Linked DNA regions of Homo sapiens: region 2 is linked to region 1. The links come from fine-mapping of genetic effects on gene expression. A gene starts in region 1. The other region holds a variant in brackets. All regions are shown on one strand. Distances are between the middles of the regions.

Region 1 (16,170 bases):
ACATTCCAGATGGAGGCTACTCTATTGTTTGGGTTTTTAACTGAGGATATGTGGACAAAAGTCCCCAGCTTGATCCCTGTGAACCTGAAGCATAGGTAAGAAATAAACCTTTGTTGTTTTAAGCCACTGTGACCTGGGAGGTGCTCCCTACTACAGCATAACCTGGCCTATCCTGGCCTATACGCTTAATATGTACCAGACTGTGCTAGACACTGGAGACACAATGCCTCACTCCAACACAATGGATCTCTTTGAGTAGAATTTTGGCTGTGTGGCAGCTGATGGAGGAACACAGCTCTTTTTACAAAGATGATGTAAGTCTGTCCAAGGTAATGGCACACCATATACCATGGAAAGATACTCAGGGTAACTGATGATTTTAAAAATAACTCTTTTGTGACACAACTTTCCCTCCTCCAATTCCTGCTGCTCCTACTAGGCCTAAAGAAGACTGAGAAGCTTAGCTGAGATGTTGCTTCCCCAGAATCACCAGGGTAAAAACAGACACAAGGACCCCCATTTAGAGGGGTGATGTTTCAGGGAGTTTCAAATAGGGCCAAGGGATGACTGTTTTAGTATCAAGCTTCCCAGGGGATTCCAGTGAACCACCCAGGGTTAAGAGCCATTGGCCTGGGGGCCAAAACTGTGAGGGAAAAGATCAGTCATGTTGCCTGATGCTTTCTTGGGTATCTTCAATAGGAAAAACCAAGTCCAGAGCAAACTCAGGGTTCACTGGCTAGAGCTTGCCCTGGAAAATTTGGAAATAGGCCTGTCTCAGCCTTCCTTTCCCTGGTGACCTTCTGTCATTCCTCTGCCAGCTCTTTCCAAACCCTGTCCCTCCAGCAGAACCTGACTTCTGAGCCACTCCTTCAGGGCTGGTTAGGTACTGTCAGCCTGCAGATGCTACCATGCACTATTCCCAGGGTTAGGGTTTCAATACGGTCAGTGTAAACCATGACCTCAGCATGACACTGTGGAACTCAGGGCTGCTGATTCTATTTGAGCCCACACTATCTACTTTTACCACCTATCCTCTCAGGTCACTCCCTTTGGTGTATTTGTTTGTCATCTCAAGTGGATTATAAACTCCTTTGAGAGCAGGGACTACAATGTATTCATAGTTTCCATGTTTTAATTCCTCTTTGGATAATTGACAGTTGGCTGTAGTTTGTTTTAATCATTATTTTGGAGTCTTTAGTGACCCCTTTCCATTTTCATTACCCAGGTTAATAGAAATTAGAATCTACATAAAAATTGCTATATTATCCTTAGAAACCTAGAAACCAAGGGGTTTAATAGGGCCTATTCTAGGATAACTTGTGTTATACTAGAAACCAAAGGTTTGAATACAGCCTCCTCCAGAATGATTAAGTCACAGCCAGCCTGATGGTAATGAGAATGGCCAGAGCTGGGGGCTGAGTTAGGGAGGATGCTGGCTGCCAAGACTTGTGTAAAAGTGATATGAGATCTCCCCACTAAGCACCCAAGCCACTACCAGCCTTCTTGAGGGAGAATCTAGATGAAAGGGGCAGACAGAGGACCAAACTGGTCAAGAACTAAGCTGCTATATTCTTTCTCCATTCCAAGATGGCTGAATAGGAACAGTTCTGGTCTGCAGCTCCCAGCATGATCAACGCAGAAGATGGGTGATTTCTGCATTTCCAACTGAGGTACCTGGTTCATCTCATTGGGACTGGTTGGACAGTGGGTGCAGCCCATGGAGTGGGAGCCAAAGCAGGGCGGGGCATCGCCTTACCCAGGAAGCACAAGGGGTCAGGAGATTTCCCTTTCCTAGCCAAGGGAAGCTGTGACAGACTGTACCTGGAAAAACGGGGCAGTCCTGCCTAATTCTGCGCTTTTCCAATGATCTTAGCAAACGGCACACCAGAAGATTATATCCCATGCGTGACTTGGTGGGTCACACGCCCACAGAGCCTTGCTCACTGCAAGCGCAGCAGTCTGAGATTGACCTGTGAGGCAGCAGTCTGGCAGGGGGAGGGGCGTCTGCCATTGCTGAGGCTTGAGTAGGTAAACAAAGTGGCCGGGGAAGCTTGAACTGGGGGGAGCCCACCGCAGCTCACCAAGACCTGCTGCCTCTGTAGACTCCACCTCTGGTGGCAGGGCATAGCAGAACAAAAGGCAGCAGAAACTTCTGCAGACTTAAACATCCCTGTCTGACAGCTCTGAAGACAGCAGTGGTTCTCCCAGCACAGTGTTTGAGCTCTGAGAAAGGACAGACTGCCTCCTCAAGTGGGTCCCTGACCCGTGTGTAGCCTAACTGAGAGACACCTCCCAGTAGGGGCCGACTGATACCTCCTACAGGTGAGTGCCCCTCTGGGATGAAGCTTTCAGAGGAAGGATCAGGTAGCAATATTTGCTGTTCTGCCGCCTCTGCTGGTGATACCCAGGCAAACAGGGTCTGGAGTGGACCTCCAGCAAACTCCAACAGACCTGCAGCTGAGGGACCTGACTGTTAGAAGGAAAACTAACAAACAGAAAGCAATAGCATCAACATCAACAAAAAGGACATCCACACCAAAACCTCATCTGTAGGTCACCAACATCAAAGACCAAAGGTAGATAAAACCACAAAGATGGGGAGAAACCAGAGCAGAAAAACTGAAAATTCTAAAAACCAGAGCACCTCTTCCACTCCAAAGGATTGCACCTCCTTGCCAGCAACAGAACAAAGCTGGATGGAGAATGACGAGTTGACAGAAATAGGCTTCAGAAGGTCGGTAATAAGAAACTTCTCTGAGCTAAAGGAGGATGTTCTAACCCATTGCAAGGAAGCTAAAAACCTTGAAAAAAGATTAGATGAATGGTTAACTAGAATAAACAGTGTAGAGAAGATCTTAAATGACCTGACGGAGCTGAAAACCATGGTGCAAGAACTACGTGATGCACGCACAAGCTTCAATAGCCGATTCGATCAAGTGGAAGAAAGGGTATCAGTTATTGAAGATCAAATTAATGAAATAAAATGAGAAGAGAAGTTTAGAGAAAAAAGAGTAAAAAGAAATGAACAAATCCTCCAAGAAATATGGGACTATGTGAAAAGACCAAATCTATGTTTGATTGGTGTAGCTGAAAGTGACAGGGAGAATGGAACCAAGTTGGAAAACACTGTTCAGGATATCATCCAGGAGAACTTCCCCAACCTAGCAAGGCAGGCCAACATTCAAATTTAGGAAATACAGAGAACACCACAAAGATACTCCTCGAGAAGAGCACCCCAAGACACGTAATTGTCAGATTCACCAAGGTTGAAATGAAGGAAAAAATGCTAAGGGCAACCAGAGAGAAAGGTCAGGTTACCCACAAAGGGAAACCCATCAGACTAACAGCGGATCTCTCGACAGAAACTCTACAAGCCAGAAGAGAGTGGGGGCCAATATTCAACATTCTTAAAGAAAAGAATTTTCAACCCGGAAATTTCATATCCAGCCAAACTAAGCTTCATAAGTGAAGGAGAAATAAAATCCTTTACAGACAAGCAAATGCTGAGAGATTTTGTCACCACCAGGCCTGCCTTACAAAAGCTCCTGAAGGAAGCAATAAACATGGAAAGGAACAACTGGTACCAGCCACTGCAAAAACATGCCAAATTGTAAAGACCATCGATGCTAGGAAGAAACTGAATCAACTAACGGGCAAAATAACCAGCTAACATCATAATGACAGGATCAAATTCACACATAACAATATTGACCTTAAATGTAAATGGGCTAAATGCCCCAATTAAAAGACACAGACTGGCAAATTGGATAAATAGTCAAGACCCATCAGTGTGCTGTATTCAGGAGACCCATCTCACGTGCAGAGACACACATAGGCTCAAAATAAACGGATGGAGGAAGATCTACCAAGCAAATGGAAAGCAAAAAAAAGCAGGGGTTGCAATCCTAGTCTCTGATAAAACAGACTTTAAACCAACAAAGATCAAAAGAGACAAAGAAGGCCATTACATAATGGTAAAGGGATCAATTCAATTAATTAATCTCAGTAGGCTGGGGTAATATTGCTACTGTCATGGTGCTAGTATGGATGCAGCCTTGCTTTTCTGTCTTTGGCACTCTTTGTACTCTGTGCACACCTCCTTCAAATTTCATGTGCCTATAGACTTCTGAACCCCCAGTGCTGGCAGACGCATGTCTACGGCCACCTATTTCACTTGGAAAATATTCCAGGGTTTCAAAATGTCATCTTTTAAATGCAGCATATTGCTGATACCTATCAAATATCTCTGAAGTAAACAACATTGCCTCCTGACCTCCAACTCCTGCAGTTACTTCCAGGATCAAATCATTTTCATCTGTTTCTTCTGATGCTTCAGCTGAGTTATTTCTTTTTGACACAAAGTTATTTCATTCTCTGCAAGTTTCCTTAAATCTTCATTCTCATGGTGCAGCAAGTGCTCGGTCTCCTGCAGCTCCTGCTCCTTCTCGTTCAGCAGTTTTACCACTGTCACCAGCTCGGGCCTCCTGACCTTCAAATGGGCCTCAGACCCCGCCTGGAGCTTGAGAAAGGTCCACAAGGGCCTGCCCTGGGCGAACAGCTCCTCCAACAATGGGCCACCGGAGCTCAGGGAATGGCAAGCTGGGCCAATGGCCCCATGGGGCCAGAGCCACCGGGCAGTGCCCCACAGAAAATGACTCTTTTTTTTTTTCAAGATGGAGTCTATCTCTGTCACCCAGAATGGAGTATAGTGGCACGATCTCAGCTCACTGCAAACTCTGTCTCCTGGGCTCAAGTGATTCTCCCACCTCAACCTCCTGAGTAGCTGGGATAACAGGTGCATGCCACATACCTGGCTAATTTTTGTATATTTAGTAGAGAAGGGGTTTCATCATATTGGTCAGGCTGGTCTTGAACTCCTGCCCTCAAGTGATCCACCCACCTCAGCCCTCCAAAGTGCTGGGATTACAGGTGTGAGCCAACGTGCCTGGCAGGATTAACTCTTTTATCATTATAAAATGTCCTACTTTGTCTCTCACAATGATTTTTGTCTTAAAGTCTATTTTGTCTGATATTATTATAGTTATTCCAGCTCTCTTTTGGTTTCTGTGTACATGGAACCTCTTTTTCCACCCTTTGCCTTCAACGTATTTTGTCTTTAAAACTAAAATATGTCTCTTATATATAGTATATAGCTTGATCATGGCTTTAAAAATTCATTCTGCCAATTTCTACCTTTTAATTGAAGAGTTTCATCCATTTACACTTAGTGTAACTACTGATAAGGTAGGATTTATGTCTATTATATTGCTATTTGTTTTTTATATGTCTTATGTGTTTTTGTTTCATTTCTGCCTTGTGTTAAACAGTTATTTTCTAGTGTTCCATTTTAACTCCTCTGTCATTTCTTTTACTATATACATTTTAAGTTATTTTCTTAGTAGCCTGATAATTTCAATTAACATTTTAAATTATAACAATCCATTCAGATTAATACCAATTTAATTTTAATAGTATAAAAATCTTTGCTCTTATTACTTCCATTCTTTTCTTACTTTGTGCTGTATTGTCATACAAATTATATATTTTTGCACCATATACCCATCAATACAGATTTATAATTATGGCTTTATGCAATTGTCTTTAAAGTCAGATGAGAGAACAAAAAGAATTACAAACAAAAAAATGCATTTATACTGTCTTTTATGTTTACCTATATACTTTCCTTTACTAGCATTTTTTATTTCTTAATGTGGATTCAAGTTACTGTCTTATATCTTTTTATTTCAGCCTAAAGGACTCCCTTTAGTATAGTCATGCATCACTTAATGAAGGAGATACATTCTGAGAACTGTGTTGTTAGGCGATTTTGTCATTGTGTGAAATAGAGTGTACTTACACAAACCTAGATGGTATAGCCTACTACACACCTAGGCTATGTGGCATAGTCTACTGCTCTGAGGCTACAAACCTGGATAGCATATTACCATACTGAGTACTGAAGGCAACTGTAACACAATACTAAGTATTTATGTATCTAAACATAGGAAAGATACATTAAAAATACAGTATAAAAGCTTCATTATAATCTTGTGGGACCACTGTTGAATATGTGGTACATTGTTGACTGTCATGTGGCACATGACTGTATTTCTTGTAGGACAGGTTTGCTAGCAATGCATTCTCTTAGTTTTTGTCTATCTGAGATTATCTAAATTACTATTTCACTTTTGAAGGGTAGTTTTGCTAGATACAGAATTTTGGTTGACAATCTTTTTCTTTAAGGAATTGAATATGCCATTCTGGCTTCCATGGTTTCTGATGAGAAGCCAACTCTTAACTGTTAAACTGTTGATTGAAGATCCCTTCGTATGTGATAAGTTGCTTTCCTCATGCTGCTTCCAAGAATCTTTCTTGTCTTTGGCCTTAAACAATTTGATTATGATGTGTTTACGTGTGGATCTCTTTGATGTATCCTATTTGAAGTTTATTGAGTTTTTTTGCATGTGCAGATTAATATTTTTCATCAAATTTGTAAAGTTTTTGGTCATTATTTTTTCAAATATTATTTCTGCTTCCTCTCTCTTCTCTTTCTTGGATTCTCATTACACACACGTACACACACACACACACACACACACACACACACACTACATATTTTTGATGTTATCTCAAATGTCTCTGAACCTTTGTTCATTTTTCTCCATTCTTTTTTCCTTTCTATCCCTTAGACTGTATAATATCAATTTACATATCTTTAATTCACAGATTCTTTCTTCTGCCTGCTCAGATCTGCTGTTGAGCCCTTCTAGTAAATTTTTCATTTCAGCTATCATACTACTCAACTCCAGAATTTATATTTGGTTCTTGAAAAAAATATATAATTTCTATCTCCTTGTTGATATTCATTACCTGATAAGATATTATTCTCATACCTTTTTCTAGTTCTTTGGATATGGTTTTCTTTACTTCTTTGAATGTATATAGAATAGCTGATTTAAAGTTTTCATCTTATAAGTTCAATATATGGGCTTCAGGGACAGTTTTTATCAATTATTTTTTCCCCCGGTGTATGTGCCTTACTTTCTTGTTTCTTTGTGTGCCTCATAATTTCTTATTGAAAACTGCATTTTAAATAACATAATATAATACAGCAACTTTGGAAATAACCTTCTCTCCCTTCCTCAGGGTTTGTTGTTGTTGATGTTGCTTCTTTGTGTGTTTAGTGACTTTTCTGAGCTAATTCTGCAAAGTCTGTGTTTTTTGTCATGTGTGGCCACTGAAATCTCTCTCTGCTTAGTGTTCAGCTAGTAATTAGACAGAGAGTTTCTTGATGCTTGAGACCAATAAGTCACCTTGTTTTTGCAGAGTGGCTCTGTGTGTATGTTGGGACATGCCTTCAACTCTCAGACAGGACATTGACAACTCCACCTTAGCCTTCCTGCTTGTGCAGAGCCTTAAGCTTAGCCCAGGGTGAGAGCTCAGGACCTTCCTTAGTTTTTCCTGCACATGTGCACAGCCCTGGGCATGTGCACCCTCCTGTGCGTACATATGGCTTTCTATATTCCTTGGGATATTTCAGAGCCTTTCAAGGCCCTTTATAGATATTTTATTCCCCCACATTTTCTTTTTAAGCTTTTTGTTTAGCCCTTTTTTTTTTTTTGCCTCAACTGTTATCCATTGTTTTAGGCAGCCACAAAGTCCAACAATTGTCTCTAGTTGTTTTCAACAAATACCCTTAAGGAAAAAGCTGTTCACTCCAGGCAAGCTTTGAGACAGGTGAAATAAAGACAGTCTTGCAAATGGTATCTTCCAGGGAACCACTAGACAGGTCAAATAATTACAACTCTCTGGGAATGAGGCTTTGAAGGAACTCCAAGGCTGTTCTACCCCTTCTTGTAGCTGCCAGGCTGCTGGTTTCCATGATGATTGTGGTTTGTTGGTTTTCAAAGCTACTGCAGAGTTGGGGTGAGGGGGATGGAATTGGAGCAAGTTAAAATGCCACAAGGCTCACTCTTCTTTCTATAATTATGTCATTTTTTTTCTTGAACGAAGACTTCCCAGATTGCTATAAACTTTTGATTAATTTCCAGAGTTCTGAAAAAATTGATTCTCACCATTTTTTGCCATTTTTCTCATTGCTTTTAGGGGGGAGGAAATTTTCAGAGGATTTTACTCCTACCATTTTCATTGACATTACGTGCAATATATTTTAATTACCCTTCTTTGTGATTGCTTTGTCACTTCTCAAAACTCAGTTCAAATGTCTCCTCCATTGCAAAGCCCTCTTCTTTGTATCCTCAGGGCAGCTATTCCTCTATTCTCCTATACCTCTGGGTTTATGTCTTTGTTATTTCACTTTTCATAATAACAGTTACTTACATCTGTTTCTATCCCTTTTTCCAGTCTGTAAGCACCCAGTCTGTGACTTGTTCATCCTCCATGCCCAGGCTAGTTTCTGACACACGGTAGATATTCAGGTTTGTAGTCTGAAGAGTATTGTCCTAGGAGACCTCAGAGCCTAGCCAAGGGCTTCTGAGTTCCAGCCACCATTTCTCTCCTTCTTCTATAATTCACAGCTGACCTCTATCTCTTCATTGTCTTATGTGTGCTCTGGTGTGATGAGAGTAAGTTCAGAATTGACACACTGAGTGTATGATATGGTTTGGATCTGTGTCCCAACCCAAATCTCATGTCAAATTATAATCCTCAATGTTAAAAGTGGACTCTGATGGGAGGTGATTTGATCATGGGAGTGGATCCTTCATGATCAAGAAACCTTCATGATTCATCATCCACTTGGTGCTATTCTCGTGATAGAGTTCTCATGAGATCTGGTTGTTTAAAAGTGTGTGGCACCTCCCCCTTCTCTCTCTTGCTCTTGCTCCTGCCATGTTAGAGGCCTTGCTCCCCCTTTTTCTTTCACCATGATTGGAAGCTTCCTGAGGCCTCCCCAGAAGCAGAAGTCACTGTGCTTCCTGTACAGCCTGTGGAACAGTGAGAACTTCTTTTCTCTTGAAATTGTCCAGTCTTAGGTATTTATTTATAGCAGTGCAAGAATTGACTAATACAGTGTATGAGGAAAATAGGGAGCAAAAAGTTAAATCCTGTGTGGGTGACATTCAGCAACAACAACAACAACAACAACAACAATAATAATAGCAGCTACTGTTTGCTGAATACAGTCTGTGCTAGACACCAGGCTATGGGCTTTATAGGCAATATCTCAATGAATTCTGACATCAACCCTATGAGGCATGTACTATTATCCTCATTTTACAGGTGAGGCTGAGTAAGGGAAGTGGGAGAACTGAGGTTGGATGAAGGCCTGACTCTAAAGCCTATATTCTTAACTGTCCCTTCTGAGGGGTTTTTGAGCAGCCAGTTGGAGGAAAGGAAGCCCCACCTGTGTTTGCCTTCCCCAGGACCTATTCTGCCTCCTTGTCTAAAGAGATGTGCCTGCTCCCAGGTGTGTTTAGCCCCGTGTGGGCTCACTTGGGTCACCTTGTGCTTTGAAACAAGATAGCACTGAGGGCTCCTGCTGCAACTGGCTCCCAGGGCAGACAGGGGTAGAGGCCCCACTTCCCTGGCATTGGGGAGACAGATGTGGCCCTCGGGCAAGAGGTGACAAAGATCTTCCATCATCACCCCAACAATTCCAACATGGTGACAGCCCCAGACTGCTAGAAAAGCCAACCCACATGGAGGCGAGATAAAATCCAGAGGGCTCAGAAACATTTCAACAAATGCTAATATCGGTCTCTCCAATACAGCTCTGTCAGCAGGAAGGGAGAATTCTGCCAGCATGCATGCATGGGGCACACTTTTTGGCACAAGGGACCTTGTTGCTAAGCAACAGTAGTTGGCCTCCCCTCCTCCCCATAACCTTTTCCTCTGTTTCTGAGTTTCCAGTTAGCAGATGGGAGGGGCTGGGGTTGCCTAGCCCAGCCCAGCCCTTGTCCCCCTTTCCTGCAACAAGGGGCCTATTCATGGGTCCTCAGCAGAGTTCATTGTCTCTGTGGCGCGTGTCTGTGTGAGTGTTGGAGTAGGGATACAGGGAGGGGCCATGTGCGAACCAGGGAGACCTCATCTTCCAACCAAGCTTGCTGGGCTAGCTTTAATCAATGCTGGCCTGAGAACAGGAGCGGAACATTGCCTAGTAGACCCTGAGGCTTTACAACAGTGCCACTGACCCCTATGGTAAGGTTACGTCTCTGTGCCATCCCTGCTGTGGCCTCTCTCTCTTTCTTTCTCTCTCCCTCCTCTGCCCTTGGGATTCTAGGCTGGTGGAAAGAGCCTCCTGAGGCAGCTCTGGTACAGGGGCTGGATCCTAGCAGGGGCCCTGTGTGGCCAATTTCCTGTTTCCTCCCCAGGGACTGCCCTTTATTATCCTCTTTCATCCCTCTTAGATCTATCAAGTGCTTTGCACATATGTGGTGCTCAACAAATCGTTATTACGTTGAACTTCCACTCAAAAAGAGGAGCAAGGAGTCCTGTAATTTTAAAGGCCATTTTTTTTTCTAGGCTAGCACATGAGCTTGGGCAGTTGAATTTTGAGGTGGAGCAGTACATGAGGTGAGGCCAGTTTATTCAGAGGCTGGGTTTAAAGCCAAGCTTCCTTGGTACTGAGGCAGAAGAAAAGACTGGCCATGCCCTGGAATTCTCTCTAGATCAGGCCTGCCTCTCCACTCAGAGGGACATCAGCTCAAGAGCAATCACACAACCCCAGAGAAGAAATCCAAACCTCACCTTCTGTTGCTGCTTCTCTACTATCTTATGGGTGCTTGACTGGCTCTCCCAAGCCTGCTGTCCTGCAGCCTCACTGCCTGTGTCCTGTGAGTCTCATCTGTAGGCACAAGAAAGAATGTGTGTGGTTTGATACAAACCATGACCTCTGTTTCTCCTGGAAAAGCAAGGCCTGCAGCTCTTGGGAGGTCCAGTCCTATAGGTCCTGGGCTGTGGCTGGTGTAGGGAATAGGGAGGTGGGGCTGGTACCTCTTTCTATAGGCAAGATGTTGGGGCTGCTGCGCTGTCTGTGAGCTGAACTGGCATGGGTGCTCTGGGTCCAGTGGAATGATTTTCGGGGCAATTTGGAGGTGACTGACCTAGGTGAGTCTGACAAAGTCTTTCCTTCCTCCTGCTGGAGGGTTAGGAAGACAGTTCAGTGGAGTACGAAGGCATGACTGGGGAGGTTTTGGCGTGAAAAGAACATTTCATGTGACACATGAAAATCACATTTAAGCCAATACTGTCCTGGAGTCAGCATTTCAGGCTTTTATCCTCATTGGGTACAACCCTATGTGTTGACAGGGAAAGATGCAGGGGAGACAGTAGTCTGCAGGGGAAACGGGAGTTGCTTCAGTTTTGAGAGATCTTATCTACCCTACTGGATTATAAATTTTGGGGGGAAGGATCCACAGCTTAGGTGTAGTTCTTATTAATATTATTATACTTAACATTTGTATTGGGCTTTACAATTTTTAAAGTCATTTTAATTCACATTATCTTATTTGTACCTCCCCCTCTGTCTCTCCCTCCCCCCTCCCTTCTTTCCTTCCCTCCTTTAATGTACTTTAACTGAATTCCCACTTTGTGCCAGGCTCTGTGCTTAGCCCTGGGATGCAAAAACCAGTGAGAAAGGAGAGAGAAGGAAGTAAATGAGCACAATATAGGGCCCAACAGGTGCTGTATGCATAGAAGGAAGCTTCCTGGAGAAGTGATGTCTGTGCTGAGTCTCGAAGGGTCAGTTGGAGTCAGTTACATGGGAAAGGGGAGAGCAGATGCAAAGTCTCTCTGTTGTGAGAGTGCCTGAAGGCACTGAAGTATGGCACGTATGTCAGTGTGATCCCAAATTTTGCTGTGGAGGGAGCAAGTGCTGGCAGTGAGGATGGAGAGGTGAGGCCAGGCGAGATCATGGAGGACTTTGTGAGCGATGCCATGGAGCTCCTGTTTGATCCTGAAGGCCACAAAGACTCATGGGGTAGAGATGGGGCTCACATGCTCATATTTGCATTTTAGAAAGATTACTCTGACTTTATGGCATGGAGAATAACAGAGAGAGACAAGATACTCGAGGAGGGAGATTATTCCTTGGAAAGCAGGAGTTATTACTCTTATTTTACAAATGAGAAAATTGAAATTTGAAGAGATGGCCTGAGTTGTCCAAGTTCACATAGTAGGTTGCAGACTTAGCTTTGAACTGTCTGGTGTTTTTTTTAAGATCTTATTTTCATTACTCCTCTTCATGGCTCATGAGCTGCAGACACACATATGACATACTCTGCTCTATGCTTTCTTATCCCTTTGCCTTTGCTGATTCAATCCTCTTTGTCTGGACTGCCCAATGCCCATTATATCAGCTCAAACCCTCTTCATCCCTGTGGGCCTGTCTCAGAGGCTGCTTTTTCTAGGAAGCCTTCTGTGATCACCTCAATGAGAAGTAAGCCCTTATTCTTTTGAATGATGATGGTAGTGTATTAGTCTGTTCTCACACTGCTATGAAGAACTGCCTGAGACTGGGTAATTTATAAAGGAAAGAGATTTAATTGACTCATAGTTCTGCATGGCTGGGGAAGCCTCAGGAAACTTATGATCATGGTGGAAGGGGAAGCAAACACACTCTTCTTCACATGCTGGCAGGAGAAAGAAGTGCAGAGTAAAGGGGGAAATCCCCTTATAAAACCATCAGATCTTGTGAGAACTCACTCACTATCATGAGAATAGCATAGGGGAACTGCCCCCATGATCCAATCACCTACTATGAGGTCCCTCCCCCAGTGCGTGGTAATTACAATTCAAAATTACAATTCAAAATGAGATTGTGGGTGAGGGGAGAGCCAAATCATATCATTCTATCCTGGTCCCTTCCAAATCTCATGTCCTCATTTCAAAACACAATCATGCCTTTCCAACAGTCCCCCAAAGTCTTAACTCGTTCCAGCATTAACCCAAAAGTCCAAGTCCAAAGTCTCATTTGAGACAAGGCAAGTCTCTTCTGCCTATGAGCCTGTAAAATCAAAAGCAAGTTAGTTACTTCCTAGATACAATGGGATACAGGCATTGGGTAAATACACCTATTCCAAATGGGAGAAATTGGTCAAAATAAAGAGGTTACAGTCCCCATGCAAGTCTGAAATCCAATAGGGCAGTCGTTAAACCTTAAAGTTCCAAAATGATCTCCTTTGACTACATGCCTTATATCCAGGTCACGCTGATGCAAGAGGTGGGCTTCCATGGCCTTGGGCAGCTCTGCCCTTGTGGCTTTGCAGGGCACAGCCCCACTTCTGGCTGTTTTCATGGGCTGCAGCTTTTCCAGGCTCACAGTGCAAGCTGTTGGTGGATCTACCATTCTGGGGTCTGGAGGATGGTGGCCTTCTTTTCACAGCTCCACTAGGCAGTGCCCCAGTGGGAACTCTGTGTGGGGGCTCCAACCCTACATTTCCCTTCCATACTGCCCTATCAGAGGATCTCCATGAGGGCTCCATCCCTGTAGCAAACATCTGCAAGGGCATCCAGGTGTTTCCATACATCCTCTGAAATCTAGGTGGAGGTTTTCAAACCTCAGTTATTGACTTCTGTGCACCCGCAGGCTCAACACCACAAGGAGGCTGCCAAGGCTTGGGCTTGCACCCTCTGAAGCAATGATCTGAGCTGTACCTTGTCCCCTTTTAGCCATGGCTGGAGCTGATGCAGCTGGGACACACAGTACCATGTCTCAGGCTGCACAGAACAGGGGGTCCTGGCCTGGCCCACAAAACCATTTTTCTCTCCTGGGCCTCTGGTCTGGTAATGGAAGGGACTGCTCTGCGGGTCTCTGACATGCCCTGGAGATATTTTCCCCATTGTCTTGGTGATTAACATTTAGCTCTTCATTACTTATGCAAATTTCTGCAGCAGGCTGGAATTTCTCCTCAGAAAATGGGTTTTCTTTTCTATCACATCATCAGGCTACAAATTTTCCAACCTTTTATGCTCTCTTTCCTCTTGAACACTTTGCTGCTTAGAAATTTCTTCTGCCAGATACCCTAAATCATCTCTCTCAAGTCCAAAGAGCCACAGATCTCATGACAGTGTGATCTAGAACCAGAAATACCATTTGACCCAGCAATCCCATTACTGTGTATATACTGAAAGGATTATAAATCATCTTACTGTAAAGACACATGCACACATATGTTTATTGCAGCATTATTTACAATAGCAAAGACTTGGAACCAACTCAAATGCCCATCAATGATAGACTGGATAAAGAAAATGTGGCACATATACACCATGGAATACTATGCAGCCATAAAAAGAATGAGATAATGTCCTCTGCAGGGACATGGATGAAGCTGGAAGCCATTATTCTCAGCAGACTAACACAGAAACACCACATGTTCTCACTCATAATGGGAGTTGAACAGTGAGAATACATGGACATGGGGAGGGGAACAACACACCCCGGGGCCTGACTGGGGGTGGGGGACAAGGGGAGGGAGAGCATTAGGACAAATACCGAATGCATACAGGGCTTAAAACCTAGATGACGGGTTGATGGGTGCAGCAAACCACCACGGCACATGTATACCTATGTAACAAACCTGCAAGTTCTGTGCATGTATCCTGGAAGTTAAAGTAAAATAAAAAAATTAAAAAAAAAAGAAAGACTATATGTCACATGGTTTCATTTATATGAAACTATAAAAAAGGGAACTCTAATATACAGTGAGAGAAACAGATCAGTGATTTTCCAGGGCTGTGAGTTGGGGAGGAGTTAACTGCAAAAAGGCAGAAGGAAAATTTCTGGGGTGACCTTCATGTCCTATATTTTGACTGTGTTGGTCATGTGGGTGTACACATTTGTCAAAGTTTTGATCTGAGAACTTAAAATGTATGTAATATTTTGAGTGTGCATTATGCCTCAATAAAGTTGAACAAAACACCCCCCCCCGCCAAAAAAAAACCACCAAAGTTCCACAGATCTCTAGGGCAGGGGCAAAATGCTTCACTTTTTTGCTAAAGCATAGCAAGAGTCACCTTTCCTTCAGTTTCCAAGACGTTCCTCATCTCCATCTGAGACCACCTCAGCCTGGACTTCATTGTCCATATCACTATCAGTATTTTGGTCAAAACCATTTAACAAGTCTCTAGGAAGTTCTAAACTTTCCCACATCTTCCTGTCTTCTTCTGAACCCTCCAAACTATTCCAACCTCTACCTGTTACCCAATTCCAAAGTCACTTCCACATATTTAGGTATCTTTACAGCAGCACCAATTTACTGTATTAGTTTGTTCTCACACTGCTATAAAGAATTACTGGAGACTGAGTAATTTATAAAGCAAAGAGGTTTAATTGACTCACAGTTCCTCATGGCTGGGAGGCCTCAGGAAACTTACAATCATGGCAGAAGGGGAAGCAAACATGTCCTTCTTCAACTGGTGGCAGGAGAGAGAAGTGCAGAGTGGAGAGGGAAAAAGCCCCATATAAAACCATCAGATCTTGTGAGAACTCACTCACTATCATGAGAACAACATTTGGGAACCAGCCCCATGATTTAATCACCTCCCACAAGGTCCCTACCCGAACATATGGGGATTACAATTTGGATTACAATTCAAGATGAGATTTTGGGTGGGGACACAGCTAAACCATATCAGGTAGTTTAGCTGAACTTTCCTTCTGTCACTTAACATATAGTGCTTTACATGACTTATCTTCAGGACCAGACTACAGGTTCTTTGACACAGTCAGAGTGGGGAGTGGTCCACGTTGGTTTATTCTGAACTCCCTATAGTGTCCCCTATAGTGACCTGTGCACTTGGACCAAATATCTATGGAATGAATGAATGGGTGGATGGGTGGGTGCATGGTGGAGGGGCACTTCTTCCTCTGAGATAGGAGGGAATGAAGAAGGGTGGGATCTTGAAGCTGAAGGAGTGTGTTGAGGGACTTTAGTAGATGCCTTCAATGTTTATGGAAGATGAAGGAGTGGCTAGGAGTGCAGGCTTTGGAGTGGGCCAAATCTGCATTCAAGTGTTTGCTACTGGCCATGTGAGAGTAAGGTCATTGGGGTTAGGGGCCCCAGGAGGGCACAGGGGAGCCTGGCAAGGTATTTGTGGGAATATACAGGGAGTCTCCAAGATGAGTAGAGGTTTACAAGTGGCAATGGAATCATGGCTGGGGTTAAAGAATGGGGACTTGGACTGGGCTGTGACTTCTCTCAGCAGTCC
Region 2 (16,170 bases), 150 kb after region 1:
CTCAGAAATTGTTAGAGCAAGGGGGAAACTTAGAGACTGTGTAGCTTTATAGCTACATTTTATTATTTTTTTTTAACAGTTGGCAACCTTGAGGCTCAGAGACATAAGGGAAAGGTCCCCCAAATACACATGTGTACATTTTTCATAATACTGCTAATAAAAATCCTATGAGGTGCTTTCCATCACTCTCATTTTATAGAAGAAGAAATTGAGGTTCCGAGGACTAAAGTAGCTTTCCTAACATCACACATCTAGTATATGTCAGAACTGGGATTAGCACTCAGGTCTACCTGCCTCTAAAGCTCATCCATGTCTTTACTTCATGATACCTGAATGATAACATTTGGATCACATTTGAATGGACCTGCCAAGGATCAAGGAAGTGAGTATATGAGTTGGTTTTTGCTATGATAACAATCTCTAAACCTCATGGTTCATAGCAATTAACATACAGTTTTTACTTATGCTCTGCAGGTCAGCTGTCATTCTGCTGGGCCTGGCTATACTTGGTATTGGGCTGAGAGTCAAGTTCATGCCTGCTTTATGTATGTTCTCATTCCAGGACTATGCTGAAGGAGTATATATATATATTTTTTATGGTAGAGAGCAGACTGTCAAGAGGTCTACCATAATCATACAGCCCTTCTAGAAGCTTTGGGTCTGTATTCTGTATCTACTCACATTCCATTGGCCAAAGCAAGTGGCATGGTCAAACTCAATATCTGATGTGTGGGAGGCACCTCTTCCCAGGGGGTTGGGGGCTTAAAAGAATGAACATTTGCTGAGCAGTAATACAGTCAAGCACAGTGAGAGACACAGAGATATCTCCGGATAATGACAACATTCAAACCTATTTTCTAGGGGTTTGCCAGCTTGACAGCAATGTATTCTAAGACGCTTCACAGTAGCCCAAAGACCAAGCACCCAGCATGTATAAATGCATGCCTGCTGTTCCCTATACTCACAGATCCCTGGTGAGGCAGTACTGGATGCCAAAACAGGCATCTGTCCTGATTTATCGTTGCCATACCAGTTTTTAAGTATTTTAAGCACTACCCCCTGAGTATATATAAATGCAAGCTATAGATTTACCCTTTTTCTAACCTGGCATGTCAGTCCCTCCTCTGGGACTGGATAGTTCAATAGCTAGGATCTTCCATATCCACAGAGAACTCTGAAGAAGAAATGTGATAGAGCTCAGACACAAAAATCTTCTGCTGAGCTTACAGGATAAAAGGGGAAGTTCCTTTCTTTATTAATTTAATAAACATTTTAAAGATATCTTTCAGTGGTGGACACTCTGTGGGTCCTTGGGGTGGGAGGGTGGGAATAAAACATTGCACAGCAGGACTTGAAAAAGCACACTTTTTATCTCATGAAATGCCAGCATTGAGTGAGGCTTTAGTGCCCTTGCAGGCCAGCTTTTCAGAGAGAAGGAATGTCATTTCACCCTGTTAGTGGAGTGACAGAGCTAGGACCTGATGGCAAGCTTGCTGATTTCTGGGTAAGTGCTCTTCATTGTCTTCAGAGAACACAGAAAACCAATTTTGAGGTTGAATCCCTGGGTAGTGAGATGACAGGTGATTGCTGGTCTGCTTGGAGGGTGGCATTATCTGGCCCTGTCCAAGCGTGTATGTGCTGGACTTCCTTGGGGCACAGAGATGGCCTGGACTCCAAATCCCTTGTCTAGAAGCTGGAATTATTTCCAGCCCCAGTGATAGCCCTCGGGGGAGGGGAGGCTAGCAGCCTTTGTAGCTGATTTAATCATGCCAAGGTGTGTGTGGGAGCCCGTGTTCCTTCTCTGCTTAATCCAAATTACATTAAAAACAAGACTCTCTTGGGGCCTCTGTTAATAATAAGTGGTTTATGCTGCTGCCTGGAGTGGGGGAATTTGTTTGCCTTTCATTCATTCTTGTCCTCCTCCCTCCTCCCCTCATCCCCGCCCCTCCTCTTGCACCTGTGGATGGCAAGAGGAAAAAAAAAAAAAAAAAAAAATAGAAAGATACTTAGCATCCATTTGTTTAAATGGATATTTAAAATAAGGATTTATTTTTTAAGACCTCATTGCCTGGGTTTCTTTACATCTCTCGACTTGGTTTCTAAGCCCCCACACAGTCTGGGCTTCCCGGGGAGGAAAAGGAATTTGCAGATCTGGTGAGCAGTTCTTGGTATTAAGCCCAGTGTGCACAGCTGGTTTTTCCACCTGCAGGGAGAATCCGGGTCCCCCACTCTGTCGTACAGCTCTGGAGGCTTGGTGGAAAAGAGAGCACTGGAGGAGAAGTCCTTCTCTGCCAGTTTTTGTGGTTTGAACTTAGGCAAGGCAGGTCACCTCTGGGAGTCCATTTCCTTAGCTGCACAACAGGAATATAGAGTCGTGTACTCACAAGGCTGGAGTGAGCATAAGGAGGAACTTATTCCTTCTAATGCTTGGAAAAGCAGCACTTTGAAAACTGTTCAGCAGGGAACACATGTGGATGGAGATTATCATTATGATCGCAAGCCCTGCTCTTCTAGAGAATACGGTTGGCTTGGTGGGGCAGTAAGGGGACCCCCTCCTGCTTTCCTCATAATGGTAGCGATAATGAGGGGTCCTGGGGACAAGTAGCAGGAGAGCAGGACCCCAGAGTCCCGCGCCAGTGACTGTGGCATCTGAGAGGCTAGGACCTGTGGCTCCACATGTGTGCAGGCTCGGAGCCCCCCATCTGCCAGCCTTTCCCGCCAGAGCACGTTGGTAAAGCTCTGATATGGCACCGGCTCTCTCCATGGGGCCCTCAATTAGGCTTTGTCTCTGGGACAGGTATGGGAATGGGACACTACAAGAGCTGGGTCTTGGTGGGTGCTGAGGCCAGGTGAGGCCAGCTCTCCTGAGTATGTGATGCCAGGGACAGATCCGTCTCCAGCCCCCGCCTCAGCCATGGTGGTCTCTGCTTCAGAGCCACCTTCCTCCAAGATGGAATTCAAAACATGTCCCCTTTCAATCCCACCTCAACAAATGAGCCCTTCACCTCTGATCTCTTTTTTTGTCTCCTCTGGACATGACAAGGATGATTTTGATATCTGTGGTTGGGTGCTTCAGAGCCCAGGTTTACGAATGAGAAACTCAACGACTCCAGAATAGAAACACCAAATTCAAGTGGGTTAAACTCCAGCCCTGACATTTAATTAGAATCTTTTCCAGCTCCCACACTTGAAGAGTACCTGTTATTTCTTTTCTTTTACTCACAATACACTGTAAGCCAGGAGCATTTTCCTGAGCTCCCGAACCTCTCATCAGAAGTCAATCACTTTGGAAGCATGATAAATACTTCTGAAAGCCTGCTGAGGATTGTGGCAGATCGTGGCTTAGGAAGTGATGAGCTTCCCGAGAGACAATGAGGAGACAGATGAGTGAGGGCAGGTGGCACGCACAAGCTCCCGGTTTTTAATCTGTCCACCATGTCCCCATATTCCTGAACAGGTCACCACCTCTCCAACTGAGTAGAGGCATCTAATGAACCTCTGGACCATTTGCCTTTGAAAATAGCAAGGAGAGAATGCATTGGAGCTGTTGGAGATGGCCTGGGAGCTCTGCCTGCCTTGCTGGGCCATGCTGGGAGTGGCTGGAAGCTTCTGGGAGCAGAGCAGTGGAGTGGAGAGAGAGTGTGGCCAGAGGGATAGTCACACTCCCAGTCTCACACATCAGTGGCCAACGCAGTGGCGAGAAGTACGGTGAAGGAGAGTGTGAAGCTGGGGCCTGGACTAGCCTTTGGAAGTCATGACAGAGACCATGAGGACAGGAACGTGTGAGACAGCAGGCAGCCTGGGTGGGAGGCTCCAGCAGAGGAAACTGGGTGCTCACGCCCTGAGGCAGGGGGAGCTGGGAGTCTGTGAGGAACAGAACAAAGTGTTTCTCACATCCAACCTCCTCTCTCCTCACCTCTGCTACCATCCTGCTTCTGGCCTCTGATCCAGTCTCTTGGCCCCTTTCCTCAGTTCCTTTGAACCCATATTACTGGTTGCTACCAGGTTAATTGGTGTAAAATATAGCTCTGATTGTAACACTCATCCAGATGCAGCTGTGTTTCCCAATGGCCCCCTGAAAGAAGGCTTTGTGTGCTGTGACCCTGTTGTTCCCATGTTTCCCACCATTTTCCTGTGTGTGGCCTCAATTTTAGCCACACTAGGCACTCACCCTCCTGCAAACATGCCTTGGGATTTTCTACTTTGGCACCTATGCTCTTGTCTGAAGTCACCCCACTTTGCCTTAGCCTCCTCCAGTACAAGCACTGAAGCCCTTGAGTCTGGAGCTCAGGAGAATGACCTGGGCTAGGGCCATACATTTGGAGACATAGGATAGAGATGGGATTTCAAGCTGGGAGGATGAAGGAGATGCCCATGGGATTCAGTGTGGGTTGACTAGAGATGACGACCAAGGACAGAGCCCTGGATTCTCCAGCTAGGATTTGATCTCTCAGCAGCCTTCTCTGTGCAGGGCTCCCTAAACTTCCATCTAGAATTCAAAGTCCAAGGAGAGAACCATGAGTTTCTCCAGGCAGGACCACCCTATCTGTTTCTGGGGGATGTCTTGATGCATAGGCTGATGACTCCAAGCTGGAATGAAGCTCTACTTTGGGTAATGGTGAGGGAAACCAACCTTCTCCTCAGCCAACAGAATTTTGTGCCACATATTCTAAAAGTCAATAACTCAAGTAACAAATATCTATAACGTTTTGTTCTCTCAATGTCAAACTCCCTCTTTGTTCTTCTGAACAAATACTGGCACCTTCTTTCTTTTCAAACTTCTCTGTCTCTCATCTATTTATGAATTTCCTTTCAGTTGCATTCTTTACATTGTATCTAAGACTTCCCTGTGTTTTAAACACGTAGATTTGAATCTCTTTCCAAGTACATGTTTTGCCTTGTTTACTATCATACCAGGTGTACCAAATGTATATTAGCTATCTTTTGGAGCTTGTTTACTTGGAGCACAAGGCCTGACTCACCTATTGAGCCCAACGCAATGACTGGAAAAGTACATATGTGGGGAATCTTAAGTTGTTCCCATAGGAAAAAGGGAATTCATGCAACTGATGCTGTAAGAACTGAAGCTTAGTTCCTGGCTTCAAGCTGGCTGTCAGTCCTACTCATTTCTTTCTGCACGTGAATCTTGAGTAAATGATAAAACAACAACAACAACAACAACAAACAAACAAACAGACAAAGGCATTTCAGAACTCTGACTCTTTTTCCACAACAGTTAATTACGGCAGCCCCTAGGGTTCCCCTGCTACTGTGCCCTTCCCCAGTATCTCCCTGAAGACAGTCAGGAGAGAAGTCACTTCGTCCTTTTTAATACGAAAACCTTGTATTTGGGTAAAATGTGTTTTGGGAAGTTATATTCTAGAAATTCTGGGAATATTCCGTATTCCTCTGACAAGACTGCAGTCTTCATCAGAGAATGGGCTGTCAAGAGGTGCTGTGGCTTTTATAGCTTAATGAGTACATTTAAATGTTGGATGCAAATTAGGCATAATATTAATGTTAGCTTCAAAGAGCAGAGAAGATAGTTAAACAGCTGTGAGGCTTTCTTCTGACTAGGCAAGCCTAGGAGTTGCATTGCCAACACAGAGACATAATGTGATAGCTTTCTGATGGCTTCTGCCAAGCCACATGGATGTAAGAACATAATGATGTAAACATAAAGTAGCTGTTCTTCATGCAGACCTGGGCAGACCACCAGAATCTGTCTATCCAAGAACTCTCCTGCTCTCTGCATTTCTCTGCCTTCCTCAGGCTGGCGAGACAGTGCATGGTGGCCACAGCGTGAATTATCTGTGGGCATGTCAGGAAGGGCATGCTCCAGCTCCCACCTGCCTGCAATAATTCCACTCGTCAGACAGCACTCCAGAGGTGCCAAATTCTATTAGCCACAGAGAGCAATATTTCCATATCTACCCCTCTAATCACCTCCCTCCTGCAAGCGGATTAATTAAAATGCACATGCAAATACATTAGTTACAAACCCAGTGTCCCTCTTCACATGCAGATGCAATCAATAGATGCTAAGATGATTTGCATAATGGAAAAAGCAAAAGGAGTCTTTACTAATGTGGCTTTTGGGGTGAAACTTGAAAACCTTGTATGCATCCTATGTAATCTAAGCCTGCCTGGGAGTCTGGCACAGCATGTGTTGTTCTCTTACGCTTCTAGGTAAACAATTGCTCTAAGATCTGAGACATTTCTCCCAGGAAGTCCTCCTTATTCTACTGTCTGCTCCCTTACTGGCCCCTCAGTGGATAGCCTCAGGTCAGGGCTGGGTCACTGTCTTGCATTTGTCCACACCTTTCATTCAGAGTGCTTTCCTTGTAAGCTGGAGGCCAGAAAAATGCCACTGTCCTCCCAAGCCCTGTCCATGCTTAATAGCTTAATTCTGAGAACATGTAACCACACCGTCTCATTGTTCAGCTGGGGACACTGAGATCCTCAGTGGAGACATCAATTGTCTAAGGCTACACTAAATAAGTAGTAAAGCTGGATCCAGAATGAAGCCAGCTCTGTGAGAGTGCCCAGAGCTGGTTGTGAGGTAGTGATTAATCAGAGATGCCTTCTTCCCTCAGGCTATCATTATTATACTGTATCACTTAGGCTCAAGGTGCTGTTATTAAACAACTCAAAGTACAAACTCAATTGCTATTTACCACGTGAGGGCTGGAGAGTTCCACAGCCTAGAGAATCTCTGTAGATTCTCTATATCAGAGATTAGATTCTCTATATCAGAGATTACTAGCATTTTTTGTTTGTTTATCAGAACACTTTTTACATGAAGAATATTTTGGGTCTCTTTTTAACACAATGCAATTGTATAAAAGTATATATTAAGAAGATAGAAAATGACAGAAAGTACTCTGACTCTAGTAGCAGTACATACATTTCAAAAATAGCTTGTACATTGGCTAAAATATTTTTTCAGCACATAGGCAAGGTTTAAAGAGCCAGTGGATTTGTGGATTCTCCAATGACTCTACTGTGCCCAGGAGTCTATGGGTTAGAGTAGAGATATCTTTGCCTTGGATTCGAAAGTCTCTGGAATAGAGCCTGTTGTTGGGATTCTTCAGGAGGCTGAGACAAGTGGTAACCAGCTGTTAAAATAAAAACTTTAGACAAGATACATTTAACAGTTTATTTGAGCATTACAGGATTCGTGAGTCAGGCAGCATTCAAAACTGGATGAGGTTCAGAGAACTCTGCTCCAGCATCACGGCAGCGAGGTTTTATAAGCTGAATGCAGAAATAAAGAAATGACTTGATTGGTTATAGCAGCATTTGCCTTACCTGGGTATGGTCGAATGGGAGATCCCCTAGTTATATAACCAGTCGGTTGGTTGACCATCTGTGATTGGCTGAAGCGCAATTCAGAATTACTCAGTTATAAGGAAGGCCTCTAAGTTAAGTTTTAGTCTGCTTGTAAGAAGGTTTTGGGTACAGAAACAACCCCATGCTAATGGCTTCCTGCCTGTTTCGCTTTAACGCGGTCAAACCAGTTTTTCTTCCAGTCATTCTAAAACCAACTGTCTGTAGGGTGAGTCTTTCAGGAGATGGCAGGAGGGAGGATTTCCAAAACATCAAGTTATGTCTGAGAAGAATGTGAATCTCAGCCCCAGAGCATGAGGTTGGTGGCTAATGATAATAATAATAACAATGGTAATCTACCATTTATTAAGTAGCTACTAAGTGCAAAAGAAGAGACTCTGCAAAGGGAGATTAGATACAGAGATAATACACCTCCCTCCAACAAAACCCAGGGTCTCATGCATACCAGCCTCTTGCATTGAGTCATGTTTTAAGAAACAAATTCTAACAACCAAAAGTAATTAAGCAGAAATTTCAGTCTTTACTGCCATCTCTCAAAGAACATTAAAATGATTGAATTCAAGCCTTGCAGTAGATCTCTCAACATTGCCTTTCCTTCTTTGGTCTCCCACACTCTGCAGCCTACTTCAGAACCTCTTACTTGGCAATTACTCCACAGTGCTCCCTGGCATTTAGCTTTAGTGTTTTTGCTGCTGTTTTCTTTTCTTCCTTGCATCTCCTGTCCCTGAGATCTTTACCAGGCGGACAGACTTAAAGCCTCTGGCATCAGCTTTAGTTTCTCCTCTGTTTGCTAATTATGTGACTGTCCATACCAAAGGGCTGTCCCGGGGACTGACTCAATAGGCAAGAACCACCTGTACCAGGATGGCCAAGTAGTTAAAGGCACTGGACTTAAGAGCCAATGGACATATGTCTGTGTGGGTTTGAACCCCACTCCTGGTGGCTTCAGATTTTTCTCTTAAAATATTTTGGCCAGGTGCAGTGGCTCATGCCTGTAATCCCAGCACTTGGGGAGGCTGAGGCAGGTGGATCATCTGAGGTCAGGAGTTCGAAACCAGCCTGGACAACATGGTGAAACCCTGTCTCTACTAAAAATACAAAAATTAGCCAGGCGTAGTGGCAGGCACCTGTAATCCCAGCTACTTGGGAGGCTGAGGCAGGAGAATCACTTGAACCCAGGAGGCGGAGGTTGCAGTGAACTGAGACCGTGTCATTGCACTCTAGCCTAGCCAACAAGAGCAAAACTCCATCTCAAAAAAAAAAAAAAAAAAAAAAAAAAAGACAAGAACCTTGTCTCTCTGCCTTCTCCCTCTCTCCTGCTTCTCTCTCTCCCTTCATCCTTCCCAATTTGTACCACAAAAAGCCAGATAATGGGGCAGAGATAGAACTCCCCTGAAAGACCAGGGGTGAGGAAAAGCTGAGCAAAATTCTTCAGACAGGGTATGATGAGGGTTAGGAAAGTGGAGAAAGTTGGATGGAGGCTGGGAATGTTGACACATTTGCACATCAATAAGCCTGGTTCCATCACATACATTTTGTGATTTAATCTTCATAGTAA[C/A]CCTTTGAGGCAGTGGATTTAACTTCATGTTTCAAGTGAGGAAAGGAGGTTAACTAGGTCAGTAAGAAGGTAAGATGACAAAGCAGTAAGAAGGTAAGATGACAAAGGTGCTGCATTGGCACTCAGAGAATTTCCCCACTTTCCTCCTTAAGTTTTGGCAGCATTTTGTTCCCAGGAGTCCTGTTCCAAATGATTCTGTGGCTCCGTGGTGTGGTCTTGGGTGTTTTGTGAGTATCTCTTTACCATTTCCTCAGTCCGAATCAATTTTTATTCCATGCTTTTGGTCTGCCTAGAACACTCTGGATTCAGGCTATGGCATGGTTGCTTTGGAGATAAAATCCTATTTTACTTCAGGTGTTCTGTATACATTCTGGCCACACTAGCTTATTCTTCATTTTCAAATGTAGCTTTATTGTACTGGTCCTTCTGCCTTTGAAAGTGCTTCACAGCCTTGCAAGCTACCTCCCACCCATAGCTTTGCCAGGCAGGACTGCAACTGGTAAGATTGGTCCTGCTGCTAGTTCCACACGGGAAGAATGGGAAGTGCATACCTGTTATGGGTTAAATTGTATCTCCTCAAAGTTCATATGTTGAAATCCTCAAACTGCTGACCTCAGGTGATCCGCCCACCTCGGCCTCCCAAAGTGCTGGGATTACAGGCGTAAGCCACCATGCCCGGCCCATATGTTGAAATCCTAACCCTCAGTGCCACAGAACATGACTGTATTTGGTTGGAGATGTGGTCTTTAAAGAGGTAATTAAGTTCAAATGAGGTCACTAGTGTGGGCCCTAGTCAAATATAACTGGCGTCCTTGTAAGAAGAGGAGATTAGGACACAGACACACACAGAAGTGTGACCATGGGAGGACACAATGAGAATTCAGTCATCTGCAACCCAAGGAGGAGGCCTCAGGAGAAACCAACCCTGCTGGTACTTTGACCTTGCCCTTCTAGCCTTCTGAACTGTGAGAAAATAACTCTGTTGTTTATGCCCCTCAGTCTGTGGTATTTCATTATGGCAGCCCTTGCAAACCAATACAGTACTCTTCTTTAGATTTGTCAGAAGCCCCTGTTCTAGAATCAATTCCATGGGAGTATAAAATAGCCAAGAAGAGCCCTAGGCCCTGTCTATGTGCCCCTCCAAGAGGCTGCTGAGCAGCCCACCCCAAGGCTAGGCAACTTTTTGGAGATTATTCTCCTCTAGGCTACAACAGTACATCTGAGAAAGTTCAGCTAAGAGGCAGCTGCCAAGCCTACAAAGGGTGTTTGGAAGGAGTGAGTGTAAAGAAGATCTCATAGACCAAGCAAAGTAGAGTCCACAGCCTCAGCATCCCCTGAGAGTGTGTTACAAATGCAAGATCTCAAGCCTTACCCCAGATCGACTGAATCAGAATCTTAATTTAACAAGAGCCTCAGGTGATCAGGATGCACATTAAAATTTGAGAAACACTGACTTTGATCCATGGGCCCTTGCATCTGATAATAGCTCACGTTGTAACTGACCTGTGTACCTCCTGCAAATCCTCTGCACAGCTGGAGAGTCCAACTGGGTTGCTTCAGGATGGCCCAGGCCAGGGGAGCTAAGGCAGTGGTGTTTAACCTTGGCTACACATTGAGATCACCTGGGGGACCTTAAGACCCCCCTACCCCCAGGGTGGAGGTTGCAGACAAGGCCGAGTAAATGAGAAACTCTGCAGGGTGGGGGTGGGGGAAACCTACCCATCAATGTATGTTTTAAGGCTTCTCAAATGATTTCAATTTGTGGACACATTTTAGAATGTATTAGTTATCTACTGCCTCATACAAACAGCCCCCAAATTTAGTGGCTTAAAATAATAGCTATTTATCTAGCTCATGATTCTATAGGTTAGCACTTTGGGCTGGGATCTGCTATTCGGTTCCTCTGGTTGCTGCTGAGAGAGCGGGAGAGAGGGAAAGAGAGAACAAGCGTGGACAAAAGCAGGCCTTCTTGAGATCTAGGCTCAGAACTGACACTGTGCTGCTCCCTCCATTTTCTACCAGTTACAGCAAGCTGTAAGGCCAGCCCAGAGTCAAGGGGTGCAGAGAGATTTCCGCTCTTGATGGGAATTGCTTGGGTCACATTACAAAAGACATGGGTACGGGGAGGAGTGGAGACCTGTGGCCATTTTTGCAGTCTAACACATTGGAAGGACAACAACTCCCTCCTTGACCAAACTTTAGTCAGGCTCCTCCAAGCCATCTTTTTGTCTAGGCCTCATCCTTAGCCCCCATCTTTGGCCTGTTGAGGCCAGTTATTTTATTTATTTATTTATTTTATTTTTAATTTTTTTTTATTTTCTGATATTATTGGAACTTTTTTTTTCTTTCCAGTTTTGGCAAGAATCCTGCTAAGCCAGTTTACTGAGAATCCCTGCATCCTTGTGGCCAATCAAGTTTCTCCTCCCCTCTACCCTTGATACCTGACAGAGTTTCTCTTAGTGATTTTCCATCCTCTCCCCCACCCTGCCTATTAGCTAGAAATCTTCAGCGGCCCCTATTGTATTTGGAGTTGATTCAGCCTCTCTCTCCTATTGCAATAGTCTTGACCCTTATTGTAATAGTCTTGAGTAAAGTCTTCTTTGCCATTTTAAAAGTGTCCAATACAACTTCTCTCTAACAGGACCACTGAGGTGGAGAAATGTCTTCTGCTCTCTTGTCCCCCTCAGCCTCCTCACACAGTGTCTCTGAAATGGCCTGAACTCTCTCCAGCTGTTACCAGGGCTGTGGAGGCTTAAGTGGCCTTTCTGAGGGAAACAGGCTAAGGCAGTTTGCTGAACGGTGTGTCCTAGTGATTTGTGTTTAAATCCCAGAGGTTCTATTTGTGATCTCAAACAAAGAGTGTTCTCTCTTAAGCTGAAATCTCTCATTTCATAAATGAGGGTAATAATACCTTCCTAGCAGAGTTGCAAAGCTTAAATAAAATATCTGTGAAGGCTGGGTGCAGTGGTTTATGCCTATAATCCCAGCACTTTGGGAGGTCAAGGTGGGCAGATCACGAGGTTAGGAGCTCGAGACCAGCCTGGCTAACATGGTGAAACCCCGTCTCTAATAAAAATACAAAAAATTAGCTGGGTGTGGTGGCATGTGCCTGTAGTCCCAGCTACTCAGGAGGCTGAGGCAGGAGAATCGCTTGAACCGGGAGCCAGAGGTTGCAGTGAGCTAAGATCATGCCACTGCACTCCAGCCTGGGTGACAGAGCGAGAGTCTCAAAACAAAACAAAACAAAAATAAGTATCTGTGAAAGCTTCTAGCTCACAGGTGTCCAGTCAATTTGGTTTTCCTTCTTTATAGCAAACTCTTATTAATTAGGATTAACAAGGGCAAAGGCCGGTCTGAATGAACGAAAGTCTAACTATAGAATTTCTCATCTGGCCCCAAAGTAGCTGTAATCTCTCAACCACGGGGTAACCACATTAAATGTTCTCTGCAAGAGGGAGGTCCTTAGAGGCCTACAAGAACAAATAGCATCTCAACAATTGGTGGTAAATAAAGAATGTAATTATCTGAATGTGGTTCATTCTTCCTTTGATCCTGTATGCATATTGCCTGTTACTGCTATACAAGGTAGGCTTTTAACACATGTTTAGTGAATGGGAATATTTTTGCAATCCCCTTTGCCCATGAGTAACACTAATAACCATAATAATGGCAGCTGTCATTCACTGAGAGCTTACTATATGCCAGGCTCTTTACGTATATCACCTCATTTAATGCTCAACTCAACCGCAGGATATGGGAGTTACCCATCTTTCCTAGATGAGGAAACTTGGGCTCAGAAAAGTTAAGTAACCTCCAGAAAAGTAGAATGCCAACTCAGCCATCTGTCTGACTTCCATCACCTCTCCTAGGTTGTTCTAGGGGATCTTTCATCTGGACCTCTGTCTGAACTCAAAATATGTCTAATTGAGCGCCCCCAAATGAATGGTTTCTCTATGGTCATGGCTGGAGATAGTGATAGCCAGCTTTCAGCAGCTTGTTTGTAGAAGAGATGTGTATTTTACCATAAAGGTCTTTTTCCATCAGGGGAGAATAGGTTTTTGAAAGAGTTCCTAAACCTGTCCTTTGGGGTCTTTGCGATACTGTCAAGGGACTTCTCAGGAGGCAGGGCTCGAATACCAGACACTGGACCAAGTTGAGGACTAGCTACAACAAGGACAGGGTGGAAGCAGCTTTCCATAAGACACGCCCACCAGTATGCTGTGTCAGTTTACCATTGCCGTGGCAACACCAGGGAATTACTGCCCCTTTCCATGGCAATGACCGGATGACCCAGGAGTTACTACCTTTTCTCTAGAAATTTATGCATAAACCACCCTCTAATCTACATGTCATTAAAAATGGGTATAAATATGACTGCAAAACTGCCCTGAGTTGCTACCCTCAGCACACTGCCTGTGGGGTAGCCCTGCTCTGCTGGAGCAGTCACGGGGCAGTAACACCACTGGAGCTGCAACATTGCCGCTTCAATAGAGCTGTTTTCTTTTACCCTGCCAGCGGCTTGCCCTTGAGTTCTTTCCTGGGTGAAGCCAAGAACCCTGGCGGGCCAAGCCCTACTTTGGGGCTTGCCTGTCCTGCATCAGTTGTAAGTTCCAGGATGCCTCCCATCTGCCAGCCATGGTAGCTCCTGCCTCTGTCTCAACTTCTCCTCTTGGTTCTGTGAATGCCTCTTAGCTGAGAAAGATTTCCAATAAACTGGACCTGACATTTTGAAAGTCTGAAGTTGGTAATTGGGCCTTCGTTCTGCCAGGTTCAGGCTGTGCTGAGGTCCACTTCTTAGCTTGATTCTTTCTTCCTAAACCTCAGGCTCCTCCAAGATGCCTTGGCCTGCTGATAATTTGCATCCTTAGGGTAGGAGGCCAGCAGGAACCAGAAACTGCAGAGAGGGCGGCTTCTGGGATGCTGCCTTTGAGGGGGTGGGGGCCGTAGGGGGATTCTCAAAACTGAGTTTCGTATCTGGGGTCCACTCTCCTCACCAGGGAAGGGGCACATGGATGGGCTTTGAAAGGTTCCTGAGCCTCCTGAAATTGTATGCAAAAGTTTGCCATTGAAATTTTCGGTGGAGAGGGTCTGAAATTTTCATCTGATTCTTAATAACGTTGAGAACCCTAAAGAACTCAAGAATCACTAGTTTAAAAATCAGGGATTGGAGAATTGGGAAGAGCTAGAGGCAACAGGAGTGTTAACTCTGGAGAAGAACAAGAGGATGAAATGGATCTTGAGTAACTCTGATGTTTTGTTTTGGCAGCGAGACTGTTTATGAACAATGCCAGTGTTCCCTGTACTTAATCTGCATTGTTGCACTCAACCCTCATAATAGCCCTTTGAAGGAGACATTGCATTCTCACTTTGCATATAAGGAAATGGGGTGCTTGGGGAGGTTAGACGACTCACCTAAAGTCACACAGCTAAGAATGGTGGAGTTTGGATTCAAACATGGTTTTATCTACCTTCAGAGGACAGATAAGATATGCAGCACGGGAAGCTAATTAGAAGTAGGGAGAAACTTTCTCCACACAGTTGACTATATGCTGAAATAGTAATGAAGAGATGTAAAGTTTAACTACTCCTAGAGATTTTATTTTATTATTTTATATATATTTTTTGAGACAGAGTCTCACTCTGTTGTCCAGGCTGGAGAGCAGTGGCGCTATCTTGGCTCACTGCAACTGCCACCTCTCAGGCTCAAGCGATCTTCCCACCTCACCCTCCCAAGTAGCTGGAATTATAGGCACATGCCACCATGCACAGCTAATTTTTTGTAATTTCTTAAAATAGAAATGGGATTTTGCCATGTTGACCAGGCTGCTCTTGAATGCCTGACCTCAAGTGATCCACCTGCGTTGGCCTCCCAAAGTGCTGGGATTACAGGCATGAGCCACTGCGCCCGCCTACTCCTAGAGATTTTAAGTAACTTCTTTCATTTTATAGCGCTCAAGTAGTACAATGTAGATTACTTTATTCAGGTCTTCCTAACAACCTGTCAAATGTATAAGGTAAATATTATTTCCTGCATTCTGCAGTGACACAGACTTCCCAGTATACTGCAAGGAGGAAGCAGCAGCTCCCTGCTGCCCAGCCCGAGATGCAGCTGCTGAGCTACAATTAGCTGGATGCTGGAGGCTGGACCTGAGGGCCTCTGGGAATTCCTTCTGGCTTAAGAGAGCCATCATTTAAAAACTGGTTTCAGTTGTAGGGGAGTCTCAACCATCAGTGACGTCTGTTGTTTTGAGTTTTCCTCCTAAAGTGCTTTTCTTTCTGCAAGATAAAAGAGAATTTCTTGGAAAAAAAAAAAAAAAGAAAACTTTTTTGTTAACACCCAAGTTATCATAAGGATACAGTAAAACCCAACATCAGAGAGACACAGGTGGTGGTGACTAACATGAGCCAACACAAGCCAAGAGCACCAGCACCCAGTGCACAAACCCCCATCACAGGCCCAGCAAGTTCAATGCAGCTCTGGTTTGGGAGGTTTTAGGAGCAAGCAGCTGTTTTATTTCTAACCACTGACTTATGGAAAGATTGAGTTGCAGTTTGTGTGTGTGTTGGGGGTGGGGGGTGGTGTGGGGAGGTGTAGGGGGATGGGACCAGGCCCTGGGGGAGGTGAGTAGGGTACAAAACATAAGTGAAGCAGCATCATTGTCTGGGGTAAATACCTGGGGTTCGTCATTTGGCGCCAAGAAGATTAGGGACACGGACACACATGGATGGGTTAAGGAGCAGAAAGTCTAATAGGCAGAAGAAAGGAGAGAGATGGACATCTGGGCATCTGAAAGGGAAAAACTGGCCTGAGGCATACCACAGCAGATTTTATAGGCAGGCTTGAGCAGGTGGTGTCTGATTTACATAGGGCCCACAGATTAGTTCCACAAGGTGTGACATATACATAGCACGAAGTGAAAGGCTGGTAGCCCCACCCTGATCTTATTATGCAAATGGGCTTTCCACTTGGCCAGGATCTTGCCTGCTCCTTATTGTACATGTGGCTGGCAAAGAGACAGGAAGATGGAGCCAAATTTTGATCATGCCTAGTCCCAGGTAGCCTATTTCTATTGACATAACTGCCGGCATTCACCCGTGCAAACTTCCAGCTTCCCTTTCTATGTCTGCAGCTCGATTTTACAGGCTGCTCTTTGTTAGAAAAGAAAATGATTTTGGGGCTGCTTTTCATTAAAAGGAAAACCTTAGTGAGGACTTCCTTACCCTCACTATCTGCCTAAATAATTTGTTTTTAACTCCTATAT

Which allele goes with the higher level. Alleles are on the strand shown, and positions count from the first base shown. SD is a standard deviation of normalised expression in the study named.
As copies of C replace A in region 2, the expression in testis of the gene that starts at base 10,072 in region 1 goes down (large effect, 0.90 SD a copy in GTEx).

Evidence for each region.
Region 2: its variant is fine-mapped to the expression of TMPRSS5 in testis (GTEx, PIP 0.93).

Annotation. Positions count from the first base shown.
Region 1 is chr11:113,700,210-113,716,379 of GRCh38, reverse strand. TMPRSS5 (transmembrane serine protease 5) reads left to right here and starts at 10,072. Exons shown (of 13, transcript NM_030770.4): 1 at 10,072-10,158. The coding sequence starts at 10,156. It also overlaps the pseudogene MTRF1LP1.
Region 2 is chr11:113,554,395-113,570,564 of GRCh38, reverse strand. No RefSeq gene overlaps it. Among named protein-coding and RNA genes, the nearest start is that of DRD2, 87 kb to the right of the region's middle. The variant C/A (reference allele first, on the strand shown) is at 8,909.